Regions from separate parts of the Homo sapiens genome. Here regions 1 and 2 are each linked to region 3. The links come from fine-mapping of genetic effects on gene expression. A gene starts in region 3. Each other region holds a variant in brackets. All regions are shown on one strand. Distances are from middle to middle.

Region 1 (5,224 bases), 27 kb after region 3:
ATCTCCTTCCCTTGGTCAAGTGGCAACCTCCCAAGGACGGCCACAAGGCACCCAGAGCCCAGCTGCAGAGTCCACTGGCTCTGTGGGAGTCCTGGAGATAAAGGACACCACCGTCCCCTCTCAGATGCCCCAAGCTAAATGGACCCAGCAAAGCCTGGCCCAGCAGCTCCAACTGCTGTCTGTGGGGAAGCTGGCTGAAAGAGCTCCGGGGCAGGCTCCGTGTCTTATCTGTCCTGCAAATCCAGAGCTGTGGGTGCCAGGAGCCAAAGCCTCATTTCTGAGCCTGGTTTGTGTCCTAGCTTAGCCCAGATCCTAAAAGTCAGGAGATGAAGGAATGGCCATCATTCTTCTTGACTCAACTGCATGTTTGAGAACTAAGATGCCAGGACTCACAGTGACAGGAGAGGCAGTGCAGTCCCCCAGTGCATAGCAGCTGCACCCTGAGGCTGGTGTGTCTGAGCAAAGCCAATGCAGAGCTGCGGGCCCTACAGATCCCATGGGGAAGGAGGGAGAGGGGAGGGCAGGGGAGGGTAGCAGCTGAGGAGGGTTCTCACTGCCTCGCCTGAAGCTGAAACCTAGCATCCAGTGGGTGATAGTGCCTGGCACGTTGCATTTCCCAGGGATGGAAAAATGTACTTTTGTCCCCTCCAATCAGTTGGAGGTGTGCCTGGAAAAGTGAGTTGAGAAGGATGGGGCTGAGCTTGGGCCTCCTGGGCTATCACAGCCACTGAGTACTGAGTGAAGAGTGATGGCTGATGAGAGAGGGAAGCGAGGGTGGGTGTGCGTGTGCCAGGCTTTCACAGCTCCAGAGCTGAGCTGCTCCAGAGCTCATATCGATAGAGACAGAATAACTTCATCCACAGGATTCTGCCTGCTGAGAATCAGAAACAAGTTCCCTCTTCCTGGCCAGCCATGCCAAGAGCCCTCAGCTAGACCCGTCAGGATTCTAGGTCCCTAAGGGGCACGGAGCCTCCATGGACTGTCCTGTTTGTGGTTTTAGCCTCTGGGAACAGTTGGCTCCCATCTGACCCAGCAGCAGCCAGAAAACATCACCACACTTGATCCAAGAACCCACCGTTGGGGCCACCAGGCAACCAAGCCACCAGGCTGAAGTTGCAGGCAGCCCCTAGCCCTCTCTCCTCACCTCTCCGTCACCCTCTTCCTCCTCCTTTCCTGCCATTCGCCATCTATCAAAATAAAAACTCAAATTTTAAGGACAAATCCTAGAAAATGAGTGAATACAGAACATCAGGGAAGAGGAATGTAGCATTAGTTTTATCCCTTAGGCCTTGAGCATTGATGAGTTTAAAGAAGGAAAAATCAAGAAGGAAACTTGAGTGAAGAGAGGCAACGAATGGGGGAAAAGCTGGGCAAGATGTTAGAAGGACCGGATTCTAGTCCCAGTTCACCACTCACCTGGGGCACCAGACGTCACTGTTCTCACCTGAGGTCCTGGTTGTGCATAGGGTTGTCTCTGGGCATTGGAGGGGAGAACCAGGGAGCCGGCCCCCAGGACCACCCCTGCATCACTTAATGCAGCTTCCAGATTACATTTTATTTTTAGTAGAGACGGGGCTTCACCATGTTGGCCAGGCTAGTTTTGAACTCCTGGCCTCAAGTGAAACACACACCTCAGCCTCCCAAAGTGCTGGGATTACAGGCGTGAGCCACTGTGCCTGGCCTCCAGATTACGTTTTATTTCAACAAGAGTTTCTGCAACCAAAAAAATTAGAGTATTAAATATTTTCTACAAAGAGTATATACGACCTGTAAGTTATAAAGAATAATAAAATGCACACCTATGTGCCCCCACCCAGCTTAAGAAAGAGAATAACTTTAATTTTTTTATTTATTTTTTGTTTCCTGATTCAAATGTAACATATATTGACTATAGAAATTTTGCAAGATCCGGAAGAGAGAAAACAAGTATCACCACAACTTCATTATCTTTTTGCAAACATTCTGGTGACAATTCTTTCCTGTTTATCCTGGGTGTGTATCTTTTTTCTGAAATTGAGATCCTATGGTGCAAATTGTCCCCTTTTTTCCATCATGGCCATCTTCCTTGGATCAGCTAATTTCTTGGCACCCTTTCACCTCCAAGATTTCAAGTTAAAAACCCCCGGATTTTTTGTGGGAGTGGGATTCAGAGTTGATTTTCCAAAAAGAAGCAGTAGTAGGAATTGACAGATTGGGGAAAATCTGTCCTGTCTGGCTTCTACCTGAAACATACACTACATTAAGAGGTTGATAAAGTGCATCCTGTCATATCTCGCCCAGAGCGGTATCTCAGGATTAATGTTGATTGATGTTTGTGTCTCATGAGGCTGAAAGCATGAGGCATCTCTGGAGATAAGAAGGAAAATGAAAGCCAGTGCTTTCAGGATTAAAAAAAAATGCCTTAGAAGGCTTCCCTGCAGCTCCAAGCCAAGCACCGGGGCCTGTGATAGATTCTCAGTACACACTGCGTGCCTGTATCTCATCGTTGTGCCTGTTCAGTCATCATTTATCCAGAGGATAAGGCACGGTTCTATAAACCTACCTAGAACACACTCAGGCAAAAGGGGACATACATTAGAGGAATACGAGGCTATCACCCATCATTCAAAGAAAATCCATGGGAAAGGCAAGGATCCTGTTGGGTGTCGGGGTCAACTGGAACCGGGCAATCAAACAGCCCCTGGGTTCTCTCTTCCTTGTCCTCTCTGGGCTCTATTCTCTCACCCTAGAGACAGCTTTCTCCAGGAGGAGGGAAAATGGCCACTGACACCTCTCACGTTTTCCATCTTAGGAGTTTTATTCCCAGAGAAAGCCTTACTTCCTTCCTTAGCCTCAGTTAAAAGTAAAAAGAAACCCTGCCTGGGAAGAACTGAGATTGGCCTGACTTTCATCAAGTGCCCAATCCTGGACCATTCCATTGTGTCCAGGGTCACTGAAAGTGGCAGCACACCCCACTGAATTGCAGCCATGCAGTTAGGGGATATCTGAGCCTAAGAGCAGTCGCTGATCCTAAGCAGGAGTTGAAATCATGAAAGTGGCTGCAAATCACCCAGTGAGTGTATAGAAGGAAAAGAAGAAAGCAGGGCAGAACACTGGGCGTAAACACAATTTAAAGAATGGAAAGAAGACAAGGAATCCAGGAAGAAAAGTGAAAATG[G/T]CTATAAAAAAAAGCAAATAGGTGGAAAATCCAGACAGCACAGAGCCACAGGAGCCAAGAAGGCTGGAGTTTGGAGGAGGACGGAGTACCCACCAGCATGGAAGTCCAGGAAAACATGCAAAGGAGAATGGCCCTGGGGTCTGGAAGCAGGAGGGGCACTGGTGATCTCTGCAAATGCCATTTCCGTGGAGGGTGGGAGTGGAAGCCAGGTGAAGACCAGCAAATACAACCTGAGGGTAGTTCTTGAGGAAAATAGTTAGGGAAGGTGGGAAAGGTGGAATAGGAAGCGGGAGAGGCAGAGGAGACAGTCCCTTCCACCTTAACCACATGGGTTTATAGATCAGACCTCCCTTGACACCAAACCCTTTGCATGCAATCCCCTGTTATTCAATCCAATGTCACATTAAATGTCCATGCTATACACTATAAGAAAGTATTTCTAATAATAATAGCTAATACTTATAATAAATCACAGAGGCCTGACTCAAGCTCACGTTCTCACCTATTCTTTCTGCTCCTTCCCCACTGGTCCACTAAAGTAAAGGAGTACATTTTTTTTTTTTTGAGTCGGAGTCTCGCTCTGTTGCCCAGGCTAGAGTGCAATGGCACGATCTTCAGCTCACTGCAACCTCTGCCTCCCGAGTTCAAGCAATTCTCCTGTCTCACCCTCCCAAGTAGCTAGGATTACAGGCGCCTGCCACCATGCCCAGCTACCTTTGGTATTTTTAGTAGAGATGGGGTTTCACTGTATTGGTCAGGCTTGTCTCTTTGCCAGGCTGGTCTCGAACTCCCGACCTTGTGATCTGCCCACCTCGGCTTCCCAAAGGGCTGGGATTACAAGGATGAGCCACTGTGCCTGGCCAGTAATGGGGTAATTTGTCTAGAGGGAGATGATAGAGCAACAGAGGCCAGCTCCTCCCAGACTTACAGCCTTCCCCTAAGAAAAATGAGTGCTCTCTCCTTCTATTTCTACCAAACATCTACCTCCATTCTACCAACACTCTCTCCCAGCTCTCTGAAGGAGAAATAAAGCCCTGTCTGAGTTATGTGTGGAGGCACAACCATTAGTTTTGGACAAAACAGCAATTCTAGATAATTGCAATGTTCAGGGTGTCTGCCCCCTACCCAATGGCCCCTCTCTGGAGTCCAAATCTCCCCTTCTCTGCTTCATGCTGTAGGAAACTGCAGAACTGACAATGAGGTTATGAAATGCCTGGGCGTATAAAAGGCAGACAGTGCTAGACTCCAGGAGACTATTCAAGGCTGGCTTTATTTAGTGTGTCCCACAGCCACTAATTGCCGGGCAGATCCTGATGCCATAGCTGATAGAACAGCACAAGGCAGCTAGGACACCCGCAATGTGGCCTTCTGGAAATGGGACCAAAAGCCCATTCTCATAACTTGTCTTAAAAGTAGGTTCCCCTCTGGTTCAGCCACAACCACTGCTGGTGACCTCACTTCAAACCTGGCTGTGCTGCACTGGGGCTGCTGACACACACCTGACTATCATAAGTCGCTGTCCTTTGTCATATTCTTCCTGCTGGTGCAATATTTTTCTTCCTGCCTATGGCCTAATTTTTAGGGCAGGAAGATGAAAATAAGACCTTCCATCTGTTCCCACTTCTAAAATATTAGGTGTAAAGAAATATTCTCTCTGAATTAAAAACTTTCCACGTTGAACCACTAACTTGAAAGTTACTCTTTACTTTTTTCTTTCCCCTTTCCCCTCTTCTTTTCTTCTCCTTTGATTCCTTTTTACTGAAATCCATCCCCAGCCTCTCCTCTCTCTCCACATTACCCCCATCCCTCTTCTTCAGTTCCCTCTATTACCCATCTTCTCTCCTTTCCATGGTCCAGACCACAGCAAGGCAAAAAAGGCACGTAGGGCACAAAATCTAAGGAGTCTTCCCGAGGTGCAGGCATGACCCTGAGAGTGACTGTCCGTAGACACCTTTGTCACCTCGCCCTAGATCCAGCCCTTTTCCTTCCCTATGTCTCTTACTTTACATCATTCAAATAAGGATTTGTCTTCCATCTCTCCCTATTCCTTTGCTCTTTTGGTCACCT
Region 2 (5,224 bases), 20 kb before region 3:
TTGTAGCTAAAATGGAGCAGCTCAGAGTTACAGGGAGGAAGACAGGCAATAAGGCAAGGATGTCATCGCTCTCTGGAATGTAAGTCAACCCCACACATCAGCCTGCTTGAGCTTCTGCTCTGGACGAGCCAAAGACCAGACCATTGTTCAAGGTTGTAAGTACAACAACTGAGACAGATACAAAGTGGTCTGGTGGCACCAGGGCGGGGCTGAACCAACCCTTCAGGGAGGGGAATAAGGGCTTAAGTCCATCAAGCAAGGAAGAGACAACTTCCTGGGCAAAGGGAGCAACTTGTGCAAAGGTATGGAGACAAAAATAGCATGGTGCTTAGGCAAAGAAAAACAACTGTGCACTGAGTGTGTGCACAGGTGTGTGAGTGTTGGGGGTGTGTGTGTGTGTGGGGGTGTGGGTGTGTTTGGTTCCATGAAACTTTATCACATGTGCAGACTCACAGGAGAGGGTTTTTAGGGGTGTGGGGTGCAGTGCCAGTGGGCGGAGGAGTTGGGGGAAGCCAGGATGTCTACCTGTTCAGCTCTGGGATTTTAAAATAAATCGGTGGCTGGCCGGGCGCGGTGGCTCATACCTGTAATCCCAGCACTTTGGGAGGCCGAGGAGGGCAGATCACCTGAGGTCGGGAGTTCAAGATCAGCCTGACCAACATGGAGAAACCCTGTCTCTACTAAAAATACAAAATTAGTCGGGCGTGGTGGCGCATGCCTGTAATCCCAGCTACTCGGGAGGCTGAGGCAGGAGGATTGCTTGAACCCAGAAGGCGGAGGTTGCGGTGAGCCGAGATCGCACCATTGCACTCCAGCCTGGGCAACAAGAGCAAAACTCCGTCTCCAAATAAATACATAAATACATAAATAAATAAAATAAACTGGTGGCTGCAGTGAGAGCCAGGGATTGGTGGGGAAGTGGGTGTCACCTCAGGGCAAAGGAGGGAAGGTTTCCAAAATGAGAGGGTGTTCAGTGGTCGCTAGGATGGCGCATGAACAGACCACTGTGTTGGGCAGTTGGAGCCCTCAGGAGAACTTTGTCAGAGGGGTGACAACAAAAGAAATACTGCCGGGGAATTAAGGAACAAATGGATGTGAGAATTTGACAATTTGGGGGCTGAGGATAAAGGCTCCTGGTTGGTCCCCAGGGAGGTGCCGGAAGCCCTGGGCAGTGCCCAGGGAGGGAAGATCTGGACGTTGGGTTCTGTCTTCCAGAGTATTTCTCCATCTATGGTCCTAGAGCTGTGTGGGGCACAGAATGGGACTCACTGACAGTGCAGTGTCATTATGACCAAGGCTGGGAGACCTACAGCAAGTAGTGGTGCCACGGGAAGGACTGGCAGTCCTGCAAAATCCTCATTACAATCACAGGATCAGAGCAGACAGCGGAGAGAGACCGAGTGTCCATCAGGGACGATCAGAAACATATACCCTAAAACTTAAAGTATAATAATAATAAAATTTAAAAAAAGAAAAGAAAAGAAAAACCGTGTGTTCACCATAACCATGAAGATGCTCTGGAGGTCCGACACTGACACCTACTGGTGTGGGATTGAGAGGACAGGCACTGACCTTGGGGTCCAAGTTGAAGTGACCATTTACCCAGGTCGGAGCAGCTCCCTCCTGTACCAAACTCTGGTGCTGACCCGAGAGGATTCAGTGATGCTGTCTTGACATTGTCCTGGGACTACGTGTGTGCATGGGCTTGTGTGTGCTTGTGTGTGCCTGTGTATGTGTGCCTGGGCTTGCCCGTGTCTATATGTGTGCTGTGCATAGATGTATGTGTACGAATGGGCCCGTGTGTGTCTGTGTGTACATGTCTGTGTTTGTGGGCCTATGTGTGTGCATGTGCATGTGTGTGTGTTTGGGGGGAGGGGTTACACCAAGATTCTGGAAAGACTGGAAGACAGAGCAAGCCTCAGTATCTCTGTATGTCTCTATCTGCTATTATCAGAGGGAGCCAAGCAGAACTGGGTCAGCTTGGGCAGGCACAGTGCAGGGTAAGAAAGAAGGCAGGTTCTCTTCTGCAAGTCACTTGGGGCAACCCGTGCCCCCTCAGAGCAGCCCCAGCCTGACGGGAGGACTTGTCAGGTGTACAGGGAGGGGAATGCAAGAAAATCGCAATCCCAGAAGTCTCAGCTCCAGGACAAGCATGTAGTGACCAAGAGCCCATTGGTGACCCTCTCCTTGGAGCCACCTCTCTCTCGTCCTCTCCCACCTCTGGTGACATATGGACAAAGGAAGGCATGGGAGACTCTGACCCATTCCTGAAAGAGGGAAAAACAGAACCCGGCATAGTGCAGAGCCCTCCCACAGGCCTCCCCTGGCTGCCCCGAGCCTTTGAGGATACTGAGAACTCACAACAGGGGGCTCCTAGAAAGAGAGTCCGGCTGTCATCCTCACTCCACAGCCCAGCCCCCAGAGCCATCAGTGTCATCTCCGCCGTGGGCACCAGAGAAACTGTCAGCTCCCCATGCACATGCATAGATGCTGCAGCTCAATCATATATCTGTTACTTGTGGGCCCATTTACAAGGCAGGGAAAAGTCCTTTTCAGCTTAGTATATGCGGATGTGGTGTGCCTGTGTGTGTGTGCAGTGGGGAAGTCTGGTTTTAGAATGTTTCAGAAATTGACTTAAAAAGAGAACAAAGGCATGA[G/A]TGGAAGGAAAGGAGGAGCTGGGGGAGAGTCGGAGGCTGCAACCCTCCAAGCCTAGTGAAATAAGGAAGCTTTGGGGAGGCAGGAAAACTTCAGCTGGAAACAGATGCTCTGCCCAGCTGCAGGGGAGAGGAGTCCTGAGTCCCCAGGCAGGGCCCAGGGAGGGGCAGCTGGCTCTGAGGGTCACTTTGCTACACAGCAGGCAACAAACAGCCTGCTGGAGCCCAGGCTGAGACTCAAGAGAAGGGCTGGCTGGCTCTGATGTAGAACTTCAGGGAAGCAGAGTGTGGTTCTCAACGCTCAGCTGTGCAACGCAGGACTCTGGGACTAAGTTGAATATTTGTAAATTGCCTGCATAGCTTCTCGCCACAAGTCCTTCCCAGGTGGTGCAGTGATGTTTGTTTGTAAGTGAAATAATATTACATTTTAGGTAAGATACCAAAAAGATACAAAACAAAACAACTGTAGTGCTAAGACTAAATGCTTCACGATCCTTGGAGGGGTAAGAGGTGACGTGAGCCACGGGGAAGCCACCTAGGTCACCCTCAAAACTATCCTTTGCATGTCCCACAGCAACTCCAAGAAAACAATCTGAACCTAAGACAACAGACGCAGCTGCACCTGGGACAGCAGACACAGCTGGGCCTGGGACAATGGACACAGCTGTACCTAGAAAAGCAGAAACAGCTGTGCCTGGGAAAAGGAACACAGCTGTGCCTGGAACAGCAGACCCAGCTTCACCTGGGACAGCAGACACAGCAGAACCTATGAGAACAACCACTCCAACAGTTCTGGCCTCCTGGCCTTCTCTCACCCAGAGCACCAACAGCACCCAGCCCACGGCTCTTACCAGCCCCCTCACCAGGTGAGCAGAGCTGGGCTCCCACAGACCTTTCCCTAGGCTGCCCCATGACTGCTCCTTCAGATGCTCTCACCAGGGACCCTCATGTGGCGCTCGTCAGGGGAGAAACAGTGAAGTCTGTAGTGGGCCTTCCCCTCCCTGTCTACACCTGAGCACTGCAGGAGATTCTCCCTGATGAGCTGCAACAGGCTGAGCTCCAGAGAGCAGGCTCTGGGCTCCATGCTTCACCGAGTCCCTCAAGCCCCAGGAGGCAAAAGCGAGGTGAAGCTTTGGGTGCTCTGGAAGGGCAGCTGTCTGGGTGGCTTTCCTGTGGCTGCTGTAACTGATCGTTACAAACTTTGTGGCTTAAAACAACACAGTCTCATGATCATACAGCTGTGGAGACCAGAAGTCTGAAATGGGTCTCACTGGGCTGAAATCAAGGTGTTAACAGGGCTGGTTCCTTCTAGAGGCTCCAGCGGAGGGCCTGTTCCCTTGCCTTTTCCAGCTTCTGGAGGCCACCCGTGTTCCTTGGCTCATGGCCCCCTCCTACCCAAAGCCAGCAAAGGTCGGTGGAGTCTCCCACAGAGCATCGCTCCACTGTCTCTCCTGCCTCCCTCTTTCATTTATAAGGACGCTGGTGATTCCACTGGGCTCAGCCAGATGATCCAGGATAATCCACCCTGGGTCACCTGACGAGCAGTCTCAAATCCACCCACTGCCTTAATTCCCCCTTGCATGTAATAAAACATATTCACAGGCTTTGGGGTTATGACATCGTGGGTGGGGTTCACTATTCTGCCTACCACAGTCACAGGCAGGGGTGTGCCCATCGCTCCAACTCTCCAGCCAAGGCTAGGGAAGGGCAGGGCGGGAGAGCGGGAAGCTGGGCCTCTTGCTTTTCTTTCACATTCCCAGCATGGTAGATGGGTGTGGACATCAATCCGAAGCCCACCTCCTTTCGAGGGATCAATAGGATGTCTCATCACCGCGCAAATGCGGCTGCCCCTGTTTAACCCCATCACAGCCTGGTGCTTCAGGATCCCTCAAAGTCCAGGGTCAAGGCCCATTCTCTCCCTGGATCCTGCCTTCCCTGCTCCACCGGCTCCCTTCTCCAGCCCAACTCCGTTCCTTTCAAAGGGTCTTGTTCCCTGGAGCCTGCCAGCACCGATCCTGTGTTCCCTAGGAGTCCGGAAGAGGCGAGGCACTGGGGATGCTTCCTGACCTGGCCTTCGTCTCGCTCCACTGTTTGCAGAGCGGTTGTTCTGCTGAGTGGGGATGGCAGTGCCAGGACTTCTAGCGAGACGGGAGAGGCACAAGGGGAAACTTGGCGGGAAGAGACCAAGGGTGCGGCGGCTCCACGGGGAGTGGAACTTGCAAGAAGAACACAGTGGTTTAAAGGGTATTTTTAGGATGTGCAATATGGCAGGCCTGCTCTCACTCAAGAAAACTCTGAGTTAAATTCACATGACTCATCACTGCTTCCATGCCCTGGGCTGGAGGCCAGCTTCGGGGAGAGAACAGGGATGGCCTGAGGGAAAGGGCCCTGGCACTGGGTGTAGGGGAGTGGATGAGGAATAAGACTGGGGAATCAGACTCTTACACGCTGATGGGGACTCCCCAGAACCCACTCGTTTAGCTAGACCAAATATTAAACATGTGGGTGATATGAGGCAGCAGGTCTCAGATCTGCTGTCATAAAGTGGGTCCAAGCAGGAGGAGACCCCT
Region 3 (5,224 bases):
TGAACCTGGGAGGCAGAGGTTTCAGTGAGCCAAGATCGTGCCATTGCACTCCAGCCTGGCAACAAAGCGAGACTCCGGCCAAAAAAAAAAAAGGAAGTCACTTGTAAAGACTTATATTTCAGAGGTAGGGCAGCAGTGTGGATAAGAGTACTATCTAAAGCCCAGTAAGCAAAGCCACCTCCAAAATGGAGGTAAAGCAAGGCAACTTGCAGAGGGGAGAGCCTGGATAGGTGAGCTTAAAGAAAAAGATAAAGGCCAAGGTGAGCGGATCACTGGAGGTGAGACCAGCCTGGCTAACATGGTGAAATCTTGTCTCTACTAAAAATACAAAAATTAGCCAGGTGTGGTGGCATACGCCTGTAACCCCAGCTACTCGGGAGGCCGAGGCACGAGAATTGCTTGAACCTGATTGGCGGAGGTTGCAGTGAGCCAAGATCACCCCACTGCACTCCAGCCTGGGTGACAGAGCCAGACTCCCTCTCGAAAAAAAAAGAAGAAGAAGAAGAGGAAAGAAAAAGATGAGATAAGGGGTGTGGCTGATTAAATCACAGACCCTCAGATGTAGAGCATGGCTTATGGTTGCTTAGCCCAATTTTCTACTTAATGTAAAAATATAACAAAAGCAAATTTTCATGCAAAGTATTGGCAGATGACACCAAATTACTGTTGTTTGAAAGAAGAACCAGGACTGGATTGGGAAGGAGTGGGTAGATCCATGCTGTTGATAACATTCTAGTTCATGGATTGGCCAGTGAGCTCACAGATGTTTGTTAAGTTACATATAATTAAAATAAAAGAGGGTCTTGAATGGACCAGTGATGAGAGAGTGTTCCATGACCCATGATCTAATTCTGGGCACCTGAAGTTAAGGAAAAAGAAGGTTATGCTAATTCCAAGATACTTTCCTCTGTCCTGCTAGAGTGTTACCTGAATGCAAGATTAGCATTTCTCAAGGAAATCCAGCATGTTCCTGGAAATAATTGATGGAATTATATAAATGCGTCGGTGCATTTGTTGAAACATGTGCTTGCTGGTTGCTTGAGGTTAATGGGAGCTACTAAATATTGGACAGCAATCAGTTCAGAATGGAAATACCAGATGATGTGGCAGAGAGGTCAGCTATTTTGTCACTATTACTAGGTTAGCCTTATTCTTGACACCTCCATGGCCAATGGAAAGAGCTCTGTGGAGGACACAGATCTGGACTTCATTTCCAGCTTGTCTACTTAGTTCTTATGTCATCAGATCTCCCTTCATCATCTTATTTATAAAGTGGAGTCAATGCTATTTGCCCTGCCTGGGTCACAAAACTGCTCAGAGGGTTAAATTCTATCATCTATTTGGAAGTGTTTATAGGTTATAAAAATGTGTAATAAATAGAATTCTAGTTTTGCTCTTTTTAAATTTTTTACTTTTCTTTTTTTGTAGAAATGGGGTCTTGCTATGTTGCCCAGGCTGATCTCAAACTCCTGGGCTGAAGCATTCCTCCTGCTTTGACCTCCCAAAGCACTGGGATTACAGGTGTGAGCCACCTCACTCAACCAACGTTTGCTTATTTTGTATTTGAATTTGCTTCCTTCCTCTTTGTCATTTCCCCTCCCTGCTAGAATTGCCCTTTCCATCTCTCTTTCCCAGTTAAGATTTTCAGAGGGACCTGCGCAGGTCACATTGCGAGTCTGAGGATGGGGAATGAGATAGGGGTGGAAAGAGAGATGGAAAGGGCAAAGAAAAAGGAAGCAAATTCAAATACAAAATGAGCAAACATTGGTTGAGTGCAGTGGCTCATGCCTGTAATCCCAGTGCTTTGGGAGGTCAAGAGAGGAGGATTGCTTGAGCCCACGAGTTTGGGTCCATGTCACCTACCTGGTCTTCTTCCTTTAAATCGCTGTCATTTTCACTCACCCTTCTAGAAAGAATCTTGTCATTACATTGGGCAATTTCTATGTTTTGTGAGGGAACTCAACCATAAAATTCATTCTGCAAACATGAAGAATGTCCTCTAATTTTTAGCCTAAATTTATTTCCCCAGAGACAAATGTGTTTTCCTGCAGTTTTGTATTTTGAATGTCTATTAATAAGAGTTTCTCTTCTGAAGTCCAACCTTTGCAGGACAGTTTCATTTACTTGTTTACACCACACCTTGTTCCGGGAAGGATTTAAGGTAGATGTTGAGGATGGCATTTTTTTTTTTCAGACAGGATCTCAACTCTATCACCCAGGCCAGACTGCTGCAGTGGTGCAATCTCGGCTCACTGCAACCTCCGCCTCCCAAGTTCAAGCGATCCTCCTGCCTCAGCCTCCCTAGTAGCTGGGACTACAGGCATGCATCACCACGCCCAGCTAATTTTTGTATTTTTAGTAGAGACAGGGTTTCACCATGTTGGCCAGGCTGGTCTCAAACTCCTGACCTCAGGTGATCCACCCACCTTGGCCTCCCAAAGTGATGGGATTACAGGCGTGAGCCACCACGCCCAGCCCATTAATTATTTCTCACAAACCATTCCAACCCCTTTACACTAAGCTTCGTCAAAACAGAACTATTGTTAATTCTTGAACTCTCCATGGTCTTTAATGTCCTCACACTTGCACATAAGCTATTCCTTTCCCACTCAGCCAACTCATTCATCCTGCAGGATGGACTTCCAATGAAGCCTCAGTGACATCTCCCACCCTTCCAAGAGCAAAGTGAGGGGTTCCTGTTGCATACTCTCATCACCACATGAATGAGTCTCTACAACAGTAATTTCCACATTGTATTGTAGTTAGTTGACTCCCTCAGTTCAGAAGTTACTCTTAATTACAGCACCCAGAACAGTCCTGGCACATATCTGGTGCTCAGTAAGTGTTTGTAGGATCCGTGGATGAATGATTGAATGTATAGAAGGATGCACAGGTGAATGAACGGATGTATCTTTCCCTTTTCTGTGGACACTTCACCTCTGGTTTGAACCCAGGACAGCTCTTCTACCTACTGTCCTGCCCCCTGCAAAACCAAGTCCCCAAAGCCACAGCCCCACTCACCTGAGAGGCAGAGAAGGAGTAGAGCTGGGAGCAGCCACATGTTCCTGTCTCCTTGGCTTCCGTCCTCAGCAAATCTAGGTCCCAGCTGGAATCCAAGTATATGTAACGGAGCCTGGGTCATCCACTTTCTACTTGTCCAAGTTTCCTTTGTGTTCTCACTCATCTATTTCCTCTTTTGCCTTTTAAAGAATGCTTCCTAATTTTAAGCCTTACTTAGCAGAAGAGAAAGGGTGGCAAGAGACGTTTCTGAGAATGGACCAAGCACAAACAGGAAAATCTGTTGGCCTTCATTTAATGTGAACGTAATGTTTGAGTCACCCCCTGAGATTTCATGACTCGGAATTTCATGAAAGTCAGTCCCAGTTTACGAAACCTCTCCAACAGAGAAAACTCTGTTCCCTGCCTCTTTCACTCTTCTTCCTATCTGGGATTACTTCATCGATCTAAGGAGCTTCCCTTCTCTATGGCTGCCTACTTTTGAATCATAAAACACCCTCTACTTAAGGAGCTGTGGTGATCACTCCCCATGTCTTTCTCAACCGTTATCTCCATGCGGATGACTTCACACCTCTTCCTCTAACCCAATATCCCAATATCTCTCCTGGGCTCCAGATCCTACTTTCTAACTTCCTATAGGGAAGCTCCACCTGGTTATACACTGTTAACCTAGTTCAGTATATGGGTCATGGTCAACAGCATAGATTCTGAAGTCACACAAACTCAAATCTCATCTCCATCATTTATTAATCATCTGACCTTGGGCATGTTGCCAAATCACTCTCCTCCTCAGTCTCCTCATCTGTAAAATAGAGTACTCATGACAATTCTTTCTCAAAGGGTTGCCACAGGAAATAAATGAGTTAATGTAAGTAAAGTGCTTGATACAGTGCCTGGAACATAGTAACTGCCCAGTTAATATTAAATACCTTTAGAATAGTCCTGGACCATTGAAATAGCTTCTCATCTGGTCCCTCCACTAGCTATACATTCTCTCTAATCCAACTTGCACATCAGAAGATACTCTTCTCTAAGACATAGCTATCTGAAAATATAATTTCTTTCCTTCTCTTTCCCCAGAGATACCCATCTTTGATACCCACAGCCTCTAATCTTTACTATCTTTTAGAACTCTACTGGATCATCTGATATTTCAAACTTTTGTTGTAAGAGCACAACTTCTTATCTTTTCTGTACCACCATATCTGATGAAGTATTATATAGCCAGGCATGGTGGCACGTGCCTGTAATCCCAGCTACTTGGGAGGCCAAGGCAGGAGAATCACTTGAACCCAGGAGGTGGAGGTTGCAAAGCAATGAGCCAAGATCACACCATTGCACTCCAGCCTGGCAACAGAGAGAGACTCCATCTAAAAAAAAAAGAAAGAAAGATGAAAGAAAGAAAGAAAAAGAAAGAAAGAAAGATAGATAGATTATATATAGAATAGAGCCCTGGATGGAACAATAAAACACCAGGACCCTGGTCCCATGTGTGACATGAGCCACACACTTGAGGGATCCAGAATGAGCAGAGCTGACAGTAGCCACAACATTGTGTCTTAGTCCATTTTCTTCTACTATAACAGAATACTACAGGCTAGCTAATTTATAAAGAACAAAAGTTGGCAGGTGCAGTGGCTCATGCCTGTAATCCTAGCACTTTGGGAGGCCGAGGCACGTAGATCACTTGAGGTCAGGAGTTTCAGACCAGCCTGGCCAACATAGCAAAACCCTGTCTCTAACAAAAATACAGAAATTAGCCCTGCATGGTGGTATGAGCCTGTAGTCCCAGCTACTCAGGAGGCTGAGGTGGGAGAATTGCTTGAACCCAGGAGACGAAAGTTGCAGTGAGCCAAGATCACGCCACTGCATTTCAGCCTGGGCGACAGAGAGAAACTCTGTCTCAAATAATAATAATAAAAAAGAACAAATTTGTTCACCTTCCTAGCTTTCTGAAGATGAGAAGTCCAAGAGCATCGTAGTGGCATCTGACAAGCGTCATTCCATGGCAGAAGACAAGACAGCAGGCAAGCCTCCTAGACAGAGAGAAAAAGGGGACTGAACTCAGCCTCTCAGGAAACCACTCTCACAATAACTAACCCACTCCGGAGATAACAGCATTAATCCACTCGGAGGACTGAGCTCTCATGGCCTAATCACCTCTTAAAGACCTCACATCCCAATGCCATTACATTGACAGTTAAGT

Evidence for each region.
Region 1: its variant is fine-mapped to the expression of CD300E in whole blood (TOPMed, PIP above 0.99).
Region 2: its variant is fine-mapped to the expression of CD300E in whole blood (TOPMed, PIP 0.92).

The regions. Positions count from the first base shown.
Region 1 is chr17:74,647,763-74,652,986 of GRCh38, forward strand. No RefSeq gene overlaps it. Among named protein-coding and RNA genes, the nearest start is that of CD300E, 27 kb to the left of the region's middle. The variant G/T (reference allele first, on the strand shown) is at 3,158.
Region 2 is chr17:74,600,622-74,605,845 of GRCh38, forward strand. It overlaps LOC101928343 (a long non-coding RNA gene), which reads left to right. Exons shown (of 4, transcript NR_158152.1): 2 at 3,229-5,224. Among named protein-coding and RNA genes, the nearest start is that of CD300LD, 11 kb to the left of the region's middle. The variant G/A (reference allele first, on the strand shown) is at 2,658.
Region 3 is chr17:74,620,561-74,625,784 of GRCh38, forward strand. It overlaps CD300E (CD300e molecule), which reads right to left and starts at 3,178. Exons shown (of 4, transcript NM_181449.3): 1 at 3,022-3,178. The coding sequence starts at 3,061. It overlaps LOC101928343 (a long non-coding RNA gene), which reads left to right. Exons shown (of 4, transcript NR_158152.1): 4 at 4,967-5,224.